Linked DNA regions of Homo sapiens. Changing the gene in region 1 together with any one later gene gives a genetic interaction. Each region holds a gene or a part of one and is shown in the gene's direction. Other genes may lie near its edges.

What was found. A genetic interaction does not mean that the proteins touch.
Region 2: changes in CHEK1 (region 1) and CDC6 are lethal when combined (synthetic lethality), as found in Homo sapiens cells (one large-scale study listed by BioGRID).
Region 3: changes in CHEK1 (region 1) and DAAM1 are lethal when combined (synthetic lethality), as found in Homo sapiens cells (one large-scale study listed by BioGRID).
Region 4: changes in CHEK1 (region 1) and LLGL1 are lethal when combined (synthetic lethality), as found in Homo sapiens cells (one large-scale study listed by BioGRID).

What each region holds. Positions count from the first base shown.
Region 1 is NC_000011.10:125,628,038-125,633,211, forward strand, and holds part of CHEK1 (serine/threonine-protein kinase Chk1), read left to right. Parts: intron 1-1,194; coding exon 1,195-1,259; intron 1,260-1,353; coding exon 1,354-1,423; intron 1,424-5,125; coding exon 5,126-5,174. UniProt on the Homo sapiens protein: Serine/threonine-protein kinase which is required for checkpoint-mediated cell cycle arrest and activation of DNA repair in response to the presence of DNA damage or unreplicated DNA.
Region 2 is NC_000017.11:40,294,379-40,298,710, forward strand, and holds part of CDC6 (cell division control protein 6 homolog), read left to right. Parts: coding exon 1-125; intron 126-977; coding exon 978-1,078; intron 1,079-1,202; coding exon of another isoform or gene 1,203-1,322; intron 1,323-2,324; coding exon 2,325-2,389; intron 2,390-4,332. UniProt on the Homo sapiens protein: Involved in the initiation of DNA replication. Also participates in checkpoint controls that ensure DNA replication is completed before mitosis is initiated.
Region 3 is NC_000014.9:59,195,167-59,199,498, forward strand, and holds part of DAAM1 (disheveled-associated activator of morphogenesis 1), read left to right. Parts: intron 1-4,332. UniProt on the Homo sapiens protein: Binds to disheveled (Dvl) and Rho, and mediates Wnt-induced Dvl-Rho complex formation. May play a role as a scaffolding protein to recruit Rho-GDP and Rho-GEF, thereby enhancing Rho-GTP formation. Can direct nucleation and elongation of new actin filaments.
Region 4 is NC_000017.11:18,224,349-18,229,266, forward strand, and holds the start of LLGL1 (lethal(2) giant larvae protein homolog 1), read left to right. Parts: upstream 1-1,286; 5' UTR 1,287-1,334; coding exon 1,335-1,415; intron 1,416-4,918. UniProt on the Homo sapiens protein: Cortical cytoskeleton protein found in a complex involved in maintaining cell polarity and epithelial integrity. Involved in the regulation of mitotic spindle orientation, proliferation, differentiation and tissue organization of neuroepithelial cells.

The sequences.
Region 1 (5,174 bases):
ATATAAGTGATTTTGATTTAAGATTGGTGTCTTACAGAATTTAAGAGTGACAAACAAGTTTTATGGTACATCATAAATGCAGTGTATCCTAAATGCAATGTATTGCCTACACAATTTTTTCTTTGTAGACATTCTAGTTACATGAAATCATTGTATACATTTTATACATTTACAGATCTAAAATAGCATGCTGTTTCCTCTTGGTTTACATGAAATAATTGAGAATTTTCTAGGATTGCTTTTTGTATATTAAGTAAATTCTATGTTTGCTATTAATACTTAAATATTCGATGTAGAATCAAAGGATTGATATTTCAGAACACTGAGAAGTACATAAAATCTGGATCTAAATTTATAATTTAAATTTATAATTTAAAGCTATTGTATTAAATAAGTTTATCAGTTAAAAACTGATAAAGAGGTATTAGGATCTCCAGTGTGACTCAGGAGAGAGTTGAGGGTAAAAGAAATGGAGTTAATGAGAGAGATCAAAATATAAAAAGATAACTGATAAAAGAACTTTCATAATAAAACTGTTTCACGAAGGACCTCACAGGCATTTGTGGTTTTGTACTGTGAGACTATATGAAGTTTAAATCTGAGCCAGGTGTGGTGGTACATGCCTGCAATCCTAGCTACTTAGGAGGCAGGAGGATTGCTTGAGCTCAAGAGTTCCAGGTTACAGTAAGTTATGATCTCACGCCAGGGCACTCCAGCCTGGGTGAAAGAACAAGACCGTATCTCTAAAAAAAGTTAAATTATAAAAGAAGTATAATCTGTAAAATATTTAGTGAAATTGGCTTAGATTTGCCCAGACTTCCCCTTTGGCATTATATTTCAGGAATGAGAAAAATAATTAGCATAGCATTTAGAAGAAATGGGGGGAATTTCAAGGTTACTAAATAAATCAGGGTTAGTATAAGAGGAAGCAGAGGCTTTGAAGTCATGGCTTGCATTCTTGATTTGGATATTGGTTTTCTCTTTATAATTTTTCTGTGATGACGCCTTTTGCCACCTAACACAGGTAAATGTGAGTTAAGCCCCATATGTGTTAGTGGACTCCTGAATCTTTTGTTGGCATTTGCTTCTGTTTGCCTAAGCACATTTGTAAATGTCTAAGCTTCAAATTAAGAAGCTATGTGGTTGCTACCTGATTATATTTAGTCAATAAACTTACTTTCATATTTGTTTTAGAGCCAGACATAGGCATGCCTGAACCAGATGCTCAGAGATTCTTCCATCAACTCATGGCAGGGGTGGTAGGTATAGTTGTCTATTTCCCTTTTACTTAAAATTAGAGTGAATACATTACATTACCAAATTCTAGTGTGTTTCTCTCTGCATCCCTCTTAGGTTTATCTGCATGGTATTGGAATAACTCACAGGGATATTAAACCAGAAAATCTTCTGTTGGATGAAAGGGGTAAGTTTAGCATTTTATCACTACCTAAAATAAAATAAAATAATTACCTAAATTATTTTAATTACCTAATTATTTTAATATAGCCATACAAGGCAAAATCAAGTCTTTTTGCATTACTGGAATTTCAAGACAAGATCTGAAAAATCAAGGAAATTTTGGAGACTTCGTATATTTGGAAATCACAAGTCTCATTTTGCAATACAAGTGCGGATCAGGTAGAGAAATCTGACCTAGGTGCAAGCCTAGCTCACTATATGTATAAGAATAATTTTTTTTTTTTTGATACAGGCTCACTGTGTTGTCCAGTCTGGGGTGCACTGTATTATCACAGTTCACTGCAGCCTTGACCTCCTAGGCTCAAGCAATCCTACCATCTCAGCTTCCCGAGTAGCTAGGACCAACCACAGGCAGGTGCCACCATGCCTGGCTAATTTTTGATTTTTTGAAGAGGTGGAGTCTTCCTGTGTTGCTCAGGCTAGTCTTGAACTCCTGGACTCAAGCAGTTTACCAGCCTTAGCCTCCCAGAGTGTTGGGATTATAGACGTGAGCCACCATGCCTGGCCAAGAATAGTTTAAAATAATCCTTTAATGGATTAATAAAGGGAAGTTCCTGTGGAATACCCTGGACCTTAGTCTTGTCCTGTTCACTCTTTTTTTATGTATGACGTGGATAAAAATGTAAGAAATTTAGTTATATTTTCTGAATGTCATCAAATTGAGAAGGATGGATAGCGAAAGCTTTAAGCTTACAGGGTCAGAATCAAAAAAGAAATGTCAGCTGTATGAGGCAGTAGTTTTTGTCTGGTTTAATGCTTTATTCTTAGTATTAGAATAGTGCTTAACAAATGGTCAGCTTTTTTTTTTTTTTGAAACAGAGTCTTGCTGTGTTGCCCAGGCTGGAGTGTAGTGACATGATCTCGGCTCACTGTAACCTCTACCTCTCTGGTTCAGGTGATTCTTGTGCCTTAGGCCCCTGAGTAGCTGGGATTACAAGCCTGAGTCACCACACCTGGCTCATTTTTATATTTTTAGTAGAGATGGGGTTTTGTCATATTGGCCAGGCTGGTCTCGAGCTCCTGGCCTCAAGTGATCTGCCTCCCTTGGCCTCCCAGAGTGCTGGGATTATAGGTGTGAGCCGCTGTACCCAGCCTATACATGCTTTTTTCTTATGTGCATATGGATTTTACTTTTTACCCCTTTAAACTGAGTTTATATGACATAAAAATCTTTATTTTTATTTAAAACTTTAAAAATTCAGGTACACAAAAATTCTTATGTATTATAATGAAATGTAAATATATGTATATCAACCCACCTGGTTTAAAAATACAACATTATTCGTATATAAGAATGCTCACAGTGGTGATGTTTTTAATATAGCAGGAAACTAACCCAAATGTCTGTCAACAATAAATTATGAAATGCATGGCTTTTCAAGCCATGTCACAAGCAGTGACACAAGCATGTCACAAGCAGTGACATGGATGAATTTCAGGTATATAATGATGTAGAGCAAAAAGAGACAGTTGCAAAAGAATTCATATGGTCTGATTCTGTTTATACAAAGTTCAAAAATATGTAAAACCTAGTATATTGTTCAAGTATGTAAACATGGAGAAAAAAACATGCAGAAAAGCAAGGGTATAATAAAACCAAATTCAGAATGGTCTAAGAAAGTAGGGGAGGGAATGTATTTAAGGAAGTATTTAAAGATTTCAAAGGAAATAGAGCATTGTTTTTCTAAAGTGAGTGGGTGTTTATTACATTGTTATTCTTTATATCTTGTATTAATATACAAGATATAATTCTTTGTTTCTATTTAATATTTAGGAGTCTTTTAAAAAAAGAAATAAAATGTTACCAGTATTTAATGTCCTCCTGTTTATTTCATCACAAATATATTCTTCCTTTGTTTTTCTAAGAGCTAAACACATTCCTACATTTAAATTTTATTATGTGCAGTTCTCTAACATAGCTGAGTATTATGTTGCAGACATAACAAAGTCCAAGGAATACTATAGTTATCCATTAGTATTTTAAGTGATTACTACTCATAAGTAATTTGAAACTCAATCTCAGTGGTTTGTCCAATAGTGTCATATTTAACTACTGAAAAGATAATCAACTGGGTGCAGTAGCTCATGCCTGTAATCCCAGAGGCTGAGGTGGGACGATTGAGTGATTCTAGGAGTTTGAGACCAGCCTAGACAACATAGACCCTGTCTTTATGAAAAATTAAAAAAAAAAATTAGCTAGACATGGTGGTGCACACCTGGAGTCCCAGCTACTTGGAAGGCTGAAGCAGGAGGATTGATCACTTCAGCCTAGGAGGTCAAGGCTGCAGTAAGCTGTGATCACATCACTACACTCTAGTCTGGGCAGCAGAGTGAGACACTTTCTCAAAAAAAAAAAAAAAAAAAAAAAAAAAGGGTAATCACAGTAGCTACCTCCTAAGTCAGATAGAGGTAAACATTTCATTGGTTTACATATTGTGTGAATGTACTTGATTTTTAAAGAAATCAGTCCCCTATTTTGAGACATTTAAGTTGTTTCTAACTTATAAAATAGGACAGTGATGGCTTCTATCAATTTGTGTAAAAGGCCAATATAAAAATTGCGTCATGCTATAATATTTTTTATGCTATAATATTTTTTATGCCATTAGCCTTTTTGTCCCACTTACACACTATTTCATGTTAGTATGTATAGATATACCTTGTTGATTGTTTTCAAAACCTACCTCCACATTTTCCATTGTACAAATTTGGACATTTATTTACAAATAATATTGCTATGAATATTCTTATGTTTATGAATTTGTGGGATTATTTCTATGGATATAGAAGTGGGAATTGCTAGTTCAAAGAGTGAATGTTTCACAGTTTAGTATGTTTTGCCAAATTGCCCTCTGATAATAGAGGGCCTTTTCTAACTCTTAAGACTGGGTTACATTCCTTTGCTCTAAGATCCTATAGTGCTCTATATTTTTATAACCTTCATAACAGTTTTCTATTGTCAGTCTTCACTAATTTATCTATTACCTGCATTGGCTGGCATAGTGTCTGTCACTAAGTTACAGTAGATATTCACTAAACATAAGTTAAGTCCTGCCTGCAGTTTTTGTGTGTTGAAGATGGGAAGTTAGGGTGGAAGTTGGGTCTTCTGATATTTTTTTTTTGTACAGAGTTTGTCCTCTTTTTCTCAGACTCTCTACTTTGAAGAAAAAAATTACTGTGGTTTGTTGAATTTTGGTGTGTCTTCACATATTTTCTTCTGCCAACTGGGTTTGTTTGCTGCTGAGAAAGTTGTGCCTAACATACTACTGATGTTTCCTTCCTGCCCTCCACCCTACCTGATGAGGGGCCTTGCTTTACTTTCATCTCAGGTTTAGAGTGCTCTTTTCCAGAAGGGCAGCCCCTTCTGACTCCAGCCTCTTTCTTTAATCTGGTCCAGACTGTTCTGTGTGTTGATAATACTTCTTTTAAGTTAATAGAAGAGGTGAGGCCTTTTTCTACTTTTAGCATAGATGATGATTTATTTTATTTTTTTAAATTTCTTTTTGTCTATTTTGCTTATTTTAAGAGAAGTTCTACAAACCTTAAGTAACACCAGTGATTTTTTTTCAGTAAAACTTAATTCCTGTAAGTATATCTATTTGCAAAACATTTTTATTCAGTGTCATCTTTTTTTCTTTTGGTTTAGATAACCTCAAAATCTCAGACTTTGGCTTGGCAACAGTATTTCGGTATAA
Region 2 (4,332 bases), on another chromosome or scaffold:
TGGATCTCACAGATAGAATTCTACCTAGGCTTCAAGCTAGAGAAAAATGTAAGCCACAGCTGTTGAACTTCCCACCTTATACCAGAAATCAGATAGTCACTATTTTGCAAGATCGACTTAATCAGGTCAGTGCCAACTATTTTGCCAAATTATGTGTTCCTTGGATCACCTGTGCTAGGAAAATTTAACAATAGTTCTAAAATATTTTTGCCTTGATTGCTTTATTAATGGAGCAAGGAGTTCCTATGGACCATAGTGAGAACATTTTTATGTGAATTTCAGCTTCATTCATTTACTGGGTGTCTCAGTGTTGAAATAAAAGCAGGAGTTAGAGGAATCACCCAAGCGCTTTTTTTTTTTTTTTTAGATGAGTTTTGCTCTTATCGCCCAGGCTGGAGTGCAATGGCGTGATCTCGGCTCTCTACAGCCTCTGCCTCACGGGTTCAAGCGATTCTCCTGCCTCAGCCTCCCCAGTAGCTAGGACTACAGGCACCTGCCACCACGCCCAGCTAATTGTTGTATTTTTAGTAGAGCTGGGGTTTCACCGTCTTGGCCAGGCTGGTCTCGAACTCCTAACCTCAGGTGATATGCCTGTCTCGGCCTCTCAAAGTGCTGGGATTACAGGCATGAGCCATCGCACCCAGCCTCAAGTGCTTTCTTTAATGACCTTTAAAAAATAGGGCCTATGAAAAAACTTTTTCTGTTGAAAATGACTAAATAGATTTTTTATTTTTGCTAATTTCAGTTCTGATTGCTTTTTTCCATTTATGAACTTCTACTGCATCCGTACAAAAAGCTTAAATGTGTGAAAACTCTCAAACGTCTCCATTATTTATGAGAAGAAAAGGCATCTTTTTAACCCTAAAGAGTTGCCAATCAAGTTTAGGGTTAAATGTGAAAATATTTATGCTTGGGACCTAAATTACAGAGGGAGAATCTTATGGTTCAAACTGTCATCTTCTATGTCTTGTCTGAAGGTATCTAGAGATCAGGTTCTGGACAATGCTGCAGTTCAATTCTGTGCCCGCAAAGTCTCTGCTGTTTCAGGAGATGTTCGCAAAGCACTGGATGTTTGCAGGTGAGTTACGGCTCTGTTGCATTCTTTTATTAAAAAAAAAAAAAAAGAAATGCTGTTAATTGTCTCATGTAACTCAAGTGAATGTGGCTTAAGAGGCTCTGTTCTGCTACTTTTTTACGCTCAGAAAGGAGGACTTGTTTCTCAGTGGGGAGCTCTGGATTTCCACCGTGTTAATGTCTGAAACATTATCAGTCCATTACCTACAGAGGGAGAAACAAATGAGATGTTGCTGGCACTCCCTGTGGTGATTATAGATTGGTTAATTACATTTGTATTAAAAAAGACTCCAGTTTACTTTTCCATTAGCTGGTCTCAAGCAGGTTTATTTATGGACCTGAACCGTCTTTGCCTTTAGACTTGTTCCCCTTCCTTTCCTTTTGTGAGCACCCCTTCTTCCCTTCAGTTGGTGGTCCCCCACAGTTGTACTCCAGACCTCTTTCTCCCTTCCCATCCTCCTGCCCCTCCTGCTGGGGAAAGCCTCTGTGCCGACTGATGAAATTTCTTCCTTCCCAGTAGGGACACTGGGTCCATTAAAATGATACTTGCTGTGCTGGCCTGCTGGTCCAACCTCCCCCTATTGCTATGCAGAAGACCCAGGTCTGGCTTATGGCTTCCTGTGGGCAAGTACTTTGGAGAGAGCAGTGGGAGAGTAAGCTCTTCCTATTGCTAGATTGCATGATCCTGAATTTGAAAGTTTCCCCTAATCAGCAAACTACTTGGGTAAAGACTGCAACTATGAGCAATAGTCATGTAGGCTAGCGTGGTTTAGCCTACACATATCCTATGTATATATAACTGAAGATATCCCTTTTAGGTTTGGTGTGTATGGGTGATGCTGACTCCCTTTAGTCAGTCACCCACACTACATATCCTCTCTCCTACCCATGACATTTTCTCCTCATCCAAAATGTTATCATTGGCTTAATGTATGATGACCTACTTGGCATCCATTAGGAGGAAACCATTGAAGTTTCTCAAATCTGATGTCCATGAATTATTTCAAAGCAATTAAGTCCCCTTATCTGAGAAATAACCCAGTTTTGTTTGGGGGCTTTAAAATTATAAAACATCATAATTTTAAAGTTACACGTAGGATATGTGTAGGCTAAACCATGTTAGCCTACATGACCATTGTTCATAGTTGCAGTCTTTGAGCAATGGTCATTAATGTGCCGCTTTTGAGGCTGGTGGTTTGGTGTGTTTGGTTTGGCTCAGACTAAATTAATTTTAGAAATTTTTTTTATAGGAGAGCTATTGAAATTGTAGAGTCAGATGTCAAAAGCCAGACTATTCTCAAACCACTGTCTGAATGTAAGTAGTTTATCTCCTTCCTGTCTTCCTTTGTAACTAGAAGCTTAGCTTTTCTGAGGAAAGAGGTAGAAAGATGAAATGAACATAGTTAAATCCAAACTCACCCATTTTTATGTGTGTCTGTGTTTTTAGTCCGTTTCGTCTACTTTATTTCAATCTTGCCTGCCAGTACTATAGTTCGTGCATTACTGGAAATGAGTTCCCAGGGTATTGATTGCGTAAATGGCTGGGACAGAGTAAGTTTTTTTTCCAAGCTCTGGAAATGAAACTTGTAGACAATGAGGTTGGATCAGCTCTCTGGGTGCTTATGTTGCGTGCACTTTAGGTCTCAATATAGGTGAAAGCAAAGCCTGATAAATAAGGGAGAATTGGGTAAAAGAATTGTGAAGCCAGGTGCGGTGGTTCACACCTGTAATCCCAGCACTTTGGGAGGCCAAGGCGGGAGGATCGCTTGAGCCCAGGATTGTGAGACCAGCCTGGGCAATATAGTGAGACCTTGTTTCTACAAAAAATTTTAAAAATTTTGCAGCCATTAAAAATATGAGTTCATATCCTTTTTAGGGACATGGATTAAGCTGGAAACCATCATTCTCAGCAAAGTAACACAGGAACAGAAAACCAAACACCACATGTTCTCACTCATAAGTGGGAGTTGAACAATGAGAACACATGGACACAGGGAGGGGAACATCACACACCGGAGGCTGTTGGGGGTGGAGGCCAAAGGGAGGGAGAGCATGCAGGACTTAAAACCTAGATGACAGGTTGATGAGTGCAGCAAGCCACCATGGCACATGTATACCTATGTAACAAACCTGCATGTTCTGCACATGTATCCCAGAACTTAAAAAAAATTAGGCAAGCATGGTGTGTGCCTGTAGTCCTAGCTACTTGGCAGGCTGAGGCAGGAGAATCACTTGAGCTGGAGAGGCAGAAGTTGCAGTGAGCCGAGATGGTGCCACTGCACTGCCAGCCTGGGCAACAGAGCGAGACCCTGTCCCAAAAGAATAATAATAAGAAGAATTATAAGTTCAACTTGGGATATCTCAAGCTTTTAAACAAGTCTAGAGGGTAGAGGTAAAAAGATCATACTGCTACAGTAAGCTGCATGGTATCACAAATGACAAAATTAATATTCCATTCCCTCAGCCTTGTTTTGGTTGTGGCAAATGTAAAATGGCCATGAACTACGTATCTTACAGTATTTGATATCCAGTGTTAGTCTTTATAAACAGAATAGTAAGATTTGATTGTTTCTTTTTCACTCCTACACTGGCTGGGAGTTTAAGTAAAATTGTTTCTGGCATTATAGTTCTGCATGAAATTCTTTCTTTTTTTCATCAATTTGCTAAAATAAAATAATTAAAAATGTTTCAGAAGTAGCCAAAAATAGTGCTTAGGCTAATAGTAGGCAATATATACCAATGTATAGACTTAGATACTGGTTTCTTCCTCCTTTTCAACTTTTCAGATTATCCCCTTTTCCTCCTCCTTTTTCCCCATCAGTAACATTTAGGCTTGTCACTGGCCCCTGTGAGCACCACTAACACAAACATAATTCAAAAAGGTAAAGAGGTTGTAAGTTCTATCTTTTGACTTCTGGTTTGTGCGGGATTGGCTTTTTTCTTTCTTTTTTTTTTTTCTTTTTGTGTAAAACAAGGTCTTGCTTTGTCTCCCAGGCTGGAGTCCAGTGGTGCAATTATGGCTGGTGCGATCATGGCTCACTGCAGCTGCAACCTCCCAGGCCCAAGCAGTCCTCTCACCTCAGCCTCCCCAGCTCCAGCTACTGCTAATTTTAAAATTTTTGTAGAGTCAGTGGGTGGAGGAGTCTCCTTATGTTGCCCAGGCTGGTCTCAAACTCCTGGGATAAAGTGATTCTCCTGCCTCAGCCTCCCACAGCTTTGGAATTACAGGCATGAGCCACCATACCAGGTTGAGATTGG
Region 3 (4,332 bases), on another chromosome or scaffold:
ACAATCTTGCTCTGTCGCCCAGGCTGGAGTGCAGTGGTGCGATCTCAGCTCACTGCAAGCTCCGCCTCCCAGGTTCACGCCATTCTCCTGCCTCAGCCTCCTGAGTAGCTGGGACTACAGGTGTCCACCACCACGCCCAGCTAATTTTTTGTATTTTTAGTAGAGATGGGGTTTCACCGTGTTAGCCAGGATGGTCTCAATCTCCTGATCTCGTGATCCGCCTGCCTCGGCCTCCCAAAGAGCTGGGATTACAGGCGTGAGCCACCGCGCCTGGCCTCATCTTGTTATACTTTTTAAGTATGTCATTCACCTTTAGTAATAACCTGGGTTTATTCTGTTCTATAAATTACACCAGGATTGGGGTTTTAAGGCTACCTGTATTTCTGCTGGCACACAATTAAGGTCACCTATTAAACTGGTCTTTGTCATTTTTATGTCTAAAAAAAATACCTGCAGTGTGATTGGAAAATGTTGCCTATCTGATAGACTTCCTGAATTTAGGCTTACAAGAGTAGATAGCCCAGATCCTAGCTTTGGGCATTGTTGGGGTAATACAGATGCCCATCTTTTATTTTCTGAGATAGGTTCTTATATTCTGGCTTGTTGGCTAGCTCAGTTTGTTAGTGACATACAAACCAGGTCAAGGGCATGGGTTAGCTTTGCCTTGTTTTGGAGCCACAAACTGTACCTGTAATTCTAGTCAGATTTTTTCTGTATCTTTTTTTTTTTTAAATTAATCATGCTTTTGGGGACTAGACTGTACATTGTGGACATATCAGTGCACAGCTATCACTACTAAGGGCAAAAAAAGGTGCCATATTTTAAAGCGAACTGGTAGGAAAACCCTGTAAGTGAGAGGCAAGACTGCCAGCAGCTTGCTAAGGAACCGTATGCTTCTGACAGTTGTCCTCCTGTGAAGATTAGGTCAGGACTAGGGGCAGCTTCTTGAAAGTTTGCCAAAGCCAATAGCCTTGATCTTTTTCCTTTCTTGGCAGAATGACAGATGCCATCAATGTGTGTTTGGGTGCTACTTCTGGACTTACTCTTAGATAAAGTTCTGGATATTTGTGCCCAAGAAGAAGAGTAAAGGATGGTGGTCAACATTATTCACCAGATGAGATAGATTGTTCATATGTGCCTAAGCTTAAATTTGTATTAGTTTCATAGAGATTTGGTAAAACCAAGCAGGGAAATGTTTAGACACAAGTTAGAACCCGCAGTTCTGTAACAAGAGGTTTAGACCAGGGACCCTTCTAAATCCCCAGAATGTACTACAAAATTAATTGTAAGAAATGGGCCGGGTGCGGTGGCTCACGCCTGTAATCCCAGCACTTTGGGAGGACGAGGCGGGCATATCACAAGGTCAGGAAGTCGAGACCATTCTGGCTAACACGGTGAAACCCCATCTCTACTAAAATTACAAAAAATTAGCCGGGCGTGGTGGCGGGCGCCTGTAGTCCCAGCTACTCCGGAGGCTGAGGCAGGAGAATGGCGTGAACCCGGGAGGCGGAGCTTGCAGTGAGCTGAGATCCTGCCACTGCACTCCAGCCTGGGTGACAGAGCGAGATTCTGTCTCAAAAAACAAAACAAAACAAAACAAAAAAACAAAACCCACAAAAAAACTAATTGTAAGAAATTAAAGGAAATGAAACAGCTTAAACTGAAGAAACTTGCTGCATTCTCTATTCTTGAAAGTTGGTGAAATTGTGAATATGGAAAATGTCATACATTTCTGTTCAAGGCAACCCATTTGGAATTCTTTTTTCTTTTTTGAGACGGAGTCTCGCTCTGTCGCCCAGGCTGGAGTGCAGTGGCGCGATCTCGGCTCACTGCAAGCTCCGCCTTCCAGGTTCCCGCCATTCTCCTGCCTCGGCCTCCCGGGTAGCTGGGACTACAGGCGCCTGCCACCACGCCTGGCTAGTTTTTTGTATTTTTAGTAGAGACGGGGTTTCACCGTGTTAGCCTGGATGGTCTCGATCTCCTGACCTCGTGATCCGCCCGACTCAGCCTCCCAAAGTGCTGGGATTACAGGCGTGAGCCACCGCGGGAATTATTTTTTCAAATGCAACTACAGTTAACTCATTATTAGTGGCTGCTATTTGATTTAGGCTGATGGTGGAAAAGAAACAACAATACCATTTCTGTTTGGTTTCCCCATCCTGTTTGTGTGGCAGTCATTTCTGCGTTAGAGGTACTTTGTTCAGCACTGTTGGTAATGTGAACTAAAAGTTGGAGGACATGCAATAAATAAATGCTGGAATTGAAGCCAATGGCTGAGACTGACCGCACCATGTTCTCAGAAGGTTAAATGAACAGGCCTGCTATTATATTTTCGTCTTTTAAAAATCAAGAATAGAGATTAAACTGGAAATACTCTGACCCATTTAGGGCTTGAGATTCTGTGAGTAGGTAACACTTCCAACTATGGAAGTTCTAGGAACTGTGGCAGGAAACTGCCTTGCCTATGATATTTTCTGCTAAGGGCTGGTTAAAATGTTTTTAAAAATGTATATAGTTTTATATTTAACCCAATTTCTTTTCAGGCTGTGTCTGAAGTTACGTTTCTTCCATACCTTACCTTTTCTTTCTATACTCCCTGCATTGCAGTTTGACAGTTCTGCTCCTTTGGCTTCTCTGTGGGCAGGGTGAGATGGCTGTCTCCAGTCTGCCAAGTTCCATATCTTGGGAGCCCCATCACTGACCTTACAGAAAAGCATGTCTTCCCCCCTTAACCCTCTAGCTTAGAATGAGAGCTGTGAGGCAGCTGGGAGAGGAAGGCTTACATTGTAATTCTGTCAAGCTCAGATTGTTTTTCTGACGAACAAGTTGAGGGAAGTAGGTAGAGGGGAGGACAGAGAGAGTTGCTGGGTTTCACTTATCTTATCATTTGTTTCCCTCTGGATGGCCTTTGTTTATGCTGTCTCTTCAGGCCAGGAATTCCTCCAACAGAAATCATGCGTACACTCGGGGACATTCACATTGGGGCTTCCTTCTTGTGTTTCCATTTGCTGATTTGCCTTTCTTTTCTTTTCTTTTCTTTCTTTTTTTTTTTTTTTTGAGACGTAGTCTTGCACTGTTGCCCAGGCTGGAGTACAGTGGTGCAATCTTGGCTCACTGCAACCTCCGCCTCCTGTGTTCAAACAATTCTCCTGCCTCAGCCTCCCAAGTAGCTGGGATTACAGGTACCCGCCACCATGCCCAGCTAATTTTTCTATTTTTAGTAGAGACAGGGTTTCAACATATTGGTCAGGCTGGTCTCAAACTCCTGACCTTGTGATCCGCCTGAACTCCTGACCTCATGATCCGCCTGCCTCGGCTTCCCAAAGTGCTAGGATTACAGGCATGAGCCACCGTGCCTGGCCCCATTTGCTGATTTGCCTTTCTTCTCTACAGCCTGATCCGGAAGGAGGGGTGGAAATACTTAACCTGCTTTTAATGCTTCTGTTAGGGGATAAAGAGATTTTACAACAGTGATGTGGGGCAAACATGTGGGTGACTTTTCTAATGAGGAAGGAGGATAATGCTGAGTAAATGTAGATTCAATTTACATGTAACTTCTGTTTGGTAGAGTGTTTAATCACACATGTTTGACACCTTGAATGAAATCTCTTCACCTGTCTTTTGGTGCTTTGCAATTGCACAGAGAAAAAGACACACTCTTTGATTTTAGGTTCAGTTTGGGTAATCGTGGCAATTCCTTTAAACTTTCCGGACCTCTCTTTCCTCATTCACAGTGTATTCACATAGAATAAGCTATCTTCTGGATAAAAATTCTAAATTTTTGGGAAGACAGTATCCTCTTAAAATAATGACCTCACTTATGTGGCACTGTGTACTCATCAAAGTAATATCCATTGAGTTTCCCTAAAATGGAGATCGGTGAGGGAGAACTCCGATTTTTCGCCCCCAGTTTTCAGCCTTGGCTGCCCCTGCCTTGGCATGGTGTCCTGAGATCCTGTTCTTGGCTGGAGCTAAGCCCCATGATCTGATCCCCAGTCTCTTCTCAACTGCACAACTCAGGAGTTTTGTAGGATATAAGGGATGAAACTCGACAGAGTCTTTTGGTGATCATACAGTTCTGTTTAAATTGATCATCACTTTTTAGTTTCTACTTAATTGTTTTTCTTTTTTTAAATTTGACATGAGGTCTTGAACTCCTGGCCTCAAGCAATCCTCCCGCCTCAGCCTCCGGAGTTGCTGGGATTACAGGCGCATGCAACCGTGCAGGGCTGATCACCACTTTAAACTGGAGTCTGACCACCAGGGGGTCCACAGAGTGAATGTAGCCAGCTGTCCATGTTTTGCTTGGCCAGCACAGTATTATTTTTAAAA
Region 4 (4,918 bases), on another chromosome or scaffold:
ATTGTTGGCTCCCTCGTAGAGCTACTGACAGCACTAAGTCAGCTGAAACCAGGAAAGGGCTTTGAACAGCGCCTGCCCCGCAGTAGACACTTAGGGGCTTTACTGTCGTCATTCTCCCTCCTCTCACCTCCTCACTCACTCCTGGGCCCTCTTCCGGATCCAGCCCCAAATACGGGGAAGGGCTGAACACCGCCGGCCTGGCGTGGGTGGAGGGGGACAGCCAGGCCCCAAGGCTTGGCAGCCGCCTCGGGCTCAGAGGTCAGCTCCTGCTCCCTGGACACAGCTGGTGGGGTTGGGGCCTGTCCTACCTGCCCCACCTAAGCTTCTAGGACCTCCCGCAGCCCCAGCCCTGAGCCAGGCGGCCTATCCTCAGCCTGGAAGGAAAGGTTCAGCCTCGAGGCCATTGTCCAGATGAGAAAAGGCCTGGGAGGTGGGTGGGGACAGGCAGACGGCCCCTGAGAGTAGGGGCAGGGCTAAGCTTTGTTCAGACGCTGTTCTCTGCGGGGGGAGGTCCTTCCCCCATCTCCGTAAAGCTCCAATCCAACCCCAGAACAGTCCCAAATGCCACCTCCTGGGGATCCCGTCTCTTTCTTTGGCTAAGAAAGAATCCCCTGTGCTGTGACACAGAGCCTTTTGCGTTGGGTCCTGAAAGATGTGTAGGAGTTCCCCAGGGGCTGGGGGTGAGGAAAGAATTCCTGACTACAAAGCCAAGGCAAAAGCACGGCGGTGGGAGGTGCTCTGACAGAGCGGGGAACAGACGAAATGGAGTTCTGTGAAATTGGTAAAATATAAACTTGGCAATCACTTGACCAATGGTGTAGATGGGGAAACTGAGGCGCAGAGGGGCCAGGGAGTTGTTCCAGTCAGAGCTGTCTTGGCTTTCGGAACAGGGCTGCCCCATTACATGAGTGGGCACGTCGCTCGCTCTCTGGGAGGAGGAAAAAGTCTCCTCCAAGCCCGGGAACGTGCGCCAATCCCCCTCCAAAGCGCTTCCCCAGCCGCCCGCGCTGGAGCCCCGGCTCATGGACTACAAGTCCCGGCAGGCCCCGCGCCGCGGCGCATGCTAGGCGGGCGTCCCTTCGCGAGCCCGGCCGAGCCCGGGGGCCCAGTTCACCATTGTCTGGCCAACAGGGGCGGGGCGGGCGGCACGGCGGGCTCGCTCACTGGTCGGGCGGCGCGTCCGTCGCGCCCGGCGCCCACCCCCGTGCAGGCCCGGCCCCGCGCGCCCGCGCCCGGGCCGCCTGGCGCCCCGCCCGCGCCTTAGGACCCGCGGGGCCGCGCGGCGCATCCTGCGGGCGGCGGCGGCGGGCGAGGCGCCTGCAGCCGGGCGCAAGATGATGAAGTTTCGGTTCCGGCGGCAGGGCGCCGACCCGCAGCGCGAGAAGCTCAAGCAGGAGCTTTTCGCCTTCAACAAGGTGCGGCGGCGGCCCGGGCCCGGGCTCGGGCGGGAGGGGGCGGGACGGGGGCCTGGGCTGGGGGCCCGGGGTCGGAGCCACGTCGGGCCCGGGGGGCGGGGGCTGGCATGCAGCGCGGCGCGGGGCGGGGCCGGGCCGGGCCGCGCACCCCCTCGGCGGGCCCCGCTCTGGCTCGGACTCTGGGTGGGTCTGGGTCTCCGGCCGACTTTCCGTGTCTGCTCCCCGAGTCTCTGCGGGCCGCTCTGGCCCTGGCTCTGCCAGTCTGTGTGTGTGGGGGTCTGTCTCTGAGACTCTTTGCCTGTCTCTGGGTCTCTGTCCCTCTTTCTCCGCCGCTGACCGGCTGTCTCGCCCCAGTTGTGCCTGTGTGTGTGGTGGGGGTGTCTCTGCCTCTGCCCCTTCCTATCTCTGCCTGTCTCCCTTTATCTCTCTGCCTCTCATTTCTCTTGCTGCCTGTGCGTCTCTGAGTCTTCTTTGCCTGTCTCTCCCTGCGTGTCTCTCTCTCTGTCTCTGTGGAGTCTCTCGACCTCTGTCGCTCACTTCTGTCTCTTTATCCTTTTTCTTAGGGGCTCCATTGCGTCCCTGCTCGGCCCTTGGGACAGCCCTGGGGCCCGGTTTGTTTTGTGCTTTGGCACCCAGGAGGGTGAGAGAGTTAGTGGGGGCGAGGCAGCTGTGGGGGGTGCGGCTGGGAAATCCCTTCAAGGAGCCTCTCCTTCCTTCCCCCACTGCTCCAGGCTCTGCCTTGCCCTGCTCTGCCCTGCCCGGGGCTCCGAGTCCAGGGGACATGCCTGGCTGTGTACTACACTGCACTTCGCATCGTGGGGCCTCAGTTTCCCTAGCTGTGAAATGAGGCTACTTTTCTCCATACTGTGGGCCCTGGCTCCCTCTGCCACATGGGCCAGCTGTCCTGCCTTTCTGCACCAAGGTGGAGTGAGGTGGAGGCTTTTCCTTCCTTTCCCGGAGTGGGACACTAGGGGCCAGGGAAAGGGGCCGCCTCAGCCCCCGCCTCCCTCTGCACTGATGTTAGAGCAGGGCCTCAGCCCACTCCTGGCTCACTGCTCTGGGGACGTTGGTTTTGTCCTCATTCTTACCCCAGAGCCCACTGATGGCAGAGCCTCTCAGTGCTCTTCGAAATTAGAGTTATCTTCAAAATACAGGTGAGAAAATTGAGGTTCTGAGAGGGGTGACGGCTTGCCCGGAGTCAGAGTGAGCTGCACCAATATCTTTCTTGAGTTCTTGTGTCAGTGGGGTTGGATTTTAGCCTTGAGGGGCAGGGATTTTTCCAAGGGGCTGCTGTGGTCCTGGGCCAGTGTTGTGCCAGGCGCCCTGGGCTGCCTTGAGGAGACACTTGTCTTGGAGGAGGCTCTGGGACGGCTGGACCTGGAGTAGTGGAGGCACTGGGATGTCTCAGGGTTTCCCTGCCTAGGTCTGCAGTGATTGCCGATGAGAGCTGCCAGGACCCTCACACGGTGGCTGAGAACCTGCTAGGAACCTGAGAGGGGCCCAGAAGGGAAGCTGGTGCTCCGTGGTCCCCAGATGGCACCTATTTTCTGTGCCGGGGAGGCTGTGAGGGTGAGGTGAGAGGAGAATGGCCCTTCAGGGAAAGGCAGCAACAGGCACAGGGCTAAATGTCACTTTTTTTTTTTTGAAATGGGGTCTCACTCTCACCCAGGCTGGAGTGCAGTGGCACAATCACAGTCCACTGCAGCCTCACAACTCCCTGGCTCAGGTGATCCTCCCATCTCAGCCTCCTGAAGCTGGGACTACAGGCTCGTGTCACCATGCCCGGCTAGTTTTTGTATTTTTTGTAGAGATGGGGTTTCACCATGTTGCCCAGGCTGGTCTCGAACTCCTGGGTTCAAGCTATCTATCCATCCATGTTGGCTTCCCAAAGTGCTAGGATTACAGACATGAGCTGCCATGCCTGGCCTAAATGTCATTTCTTCAGCCAGTGAATTGGGGTGTGCAGTGGGGGCTGGAGACAGATGGGGGTGAAGCTCAGCCCACTCTGGCTAGCCTTGGGGTGGCGGAAAGTAAGGGCCCTCCGCTGAGGATGAAGCGTGGGCAGCAGTGGTGGAAAGTGGGGTGGTCTTGGGGAAGGGACTTAGTCACCTAAGTGGGTAATAGGTGATCGCTAGGGAATAGGCCCCTGATTCCTGAGCTTAGGGGGTGGGAGACAGGTCAGGAGTGAGCAGGGACTTTGGACTCTGAGTCTTGGGTTCAAATCCCAGTCCAGCCCACACATCGCCTGTGGAATGTGCCTTCTCTGTTAATACTGAGCCCCACTGTGTGTGAGGTCTCCAAGGTGCTGGGGACAACAGTAGTTACCAAAAAGGACAAATACCTGTTAACTCAGGTGGCTGATATAGTTGTGCAGGAGACAGTGAAAAGCCAAAACAAAAAAGTAAAATAGACTGTAGTTGGGATGGTAGCCAGTGCTGTGGATCAAATAAAGTAGGGCGAGGGGGTGAGAGGTGTGGCCAGGGCGGCTGCTGCAGCCAGGGTGGCCTTGGGAGGCTTCTCTGAGGAGATTACTCCTGAGCGACAGGAAGTGCTGGAGGAAGTGCGTTCCAGGCAGAGGGGCAGTAGGTGCAAAGGCCCTGAGGCACAAGCCTCCCTTAGCTGGGAGCCCCAGGAGGATCCTGAGCAGGGGAGGGACAAGGATCTGGCTGTGGCTTTCATAGGATCCCTCTGGCCTCTGTGGGAACAGACTGTAGTGAGTACCAATCCAGGCACGTGACGGTGGGGCCTGGAGCAGGGAGGGAGGTGACTTCTGTGTGTTTTGAAACTGAGTTGATGGGGCTCAGAAATGGACTGGACGTGGGGTATGAGGGAAGCAGATGCTGGACAGTGCATGTAACCTCCTTTCCTCGTTTGTAAAATGGGAAGGCTGTGGGGATTTGCGATGCAGTGTCCCGTCTCTGGACCCTGGTTGTAGCGAGGGACTGGCTAGACAAGGTCAGGTGCAGCAAGGGCGTGGTATTATTGGTGGGAGAGAGAAGCCCCAGCCAAATCGCCAACTCTGTCCTTAGGTGGGCTTACTGTCCCAAGGGCCCAGATGAGAGACTGAAGCTTGGAGAGTACTGAGTCTTGGAGAGTACTGTGACTTGCCCAAGGCCAGACAGCTAGGCCGTGACCAAACCAGCTGCCCAGAGGGCTCAGTCCCCACCTGGATGGGCAGAGGCAGGCAGGGAGGGAGGTTCGCGTTACAGGCTGGGAACTGGGGTTTCTTACAAATGTGCATCTTCCTGAGGCAGTGGGTCAGGAATTACCAGTGGTAAAAGTGAAAAATAAATAACAACAACAAGATAAAAGGAGTTACCAGTGGCCCACGTGGGTGTCCTGCACTGGTGTTCAGGATGGGGCTGGAGCTCAGCTGTGCAGGCTTCCCAGGGAGGGCACAGCCAGGCCAAAGACAGGAGACTGGTGCAGAAAGGGTGTGCTGTGAAAGGGGCAGGGGAGCGGGTGGGGAGCTGTTTCATCGACACTCTGGGCACACAGACCCC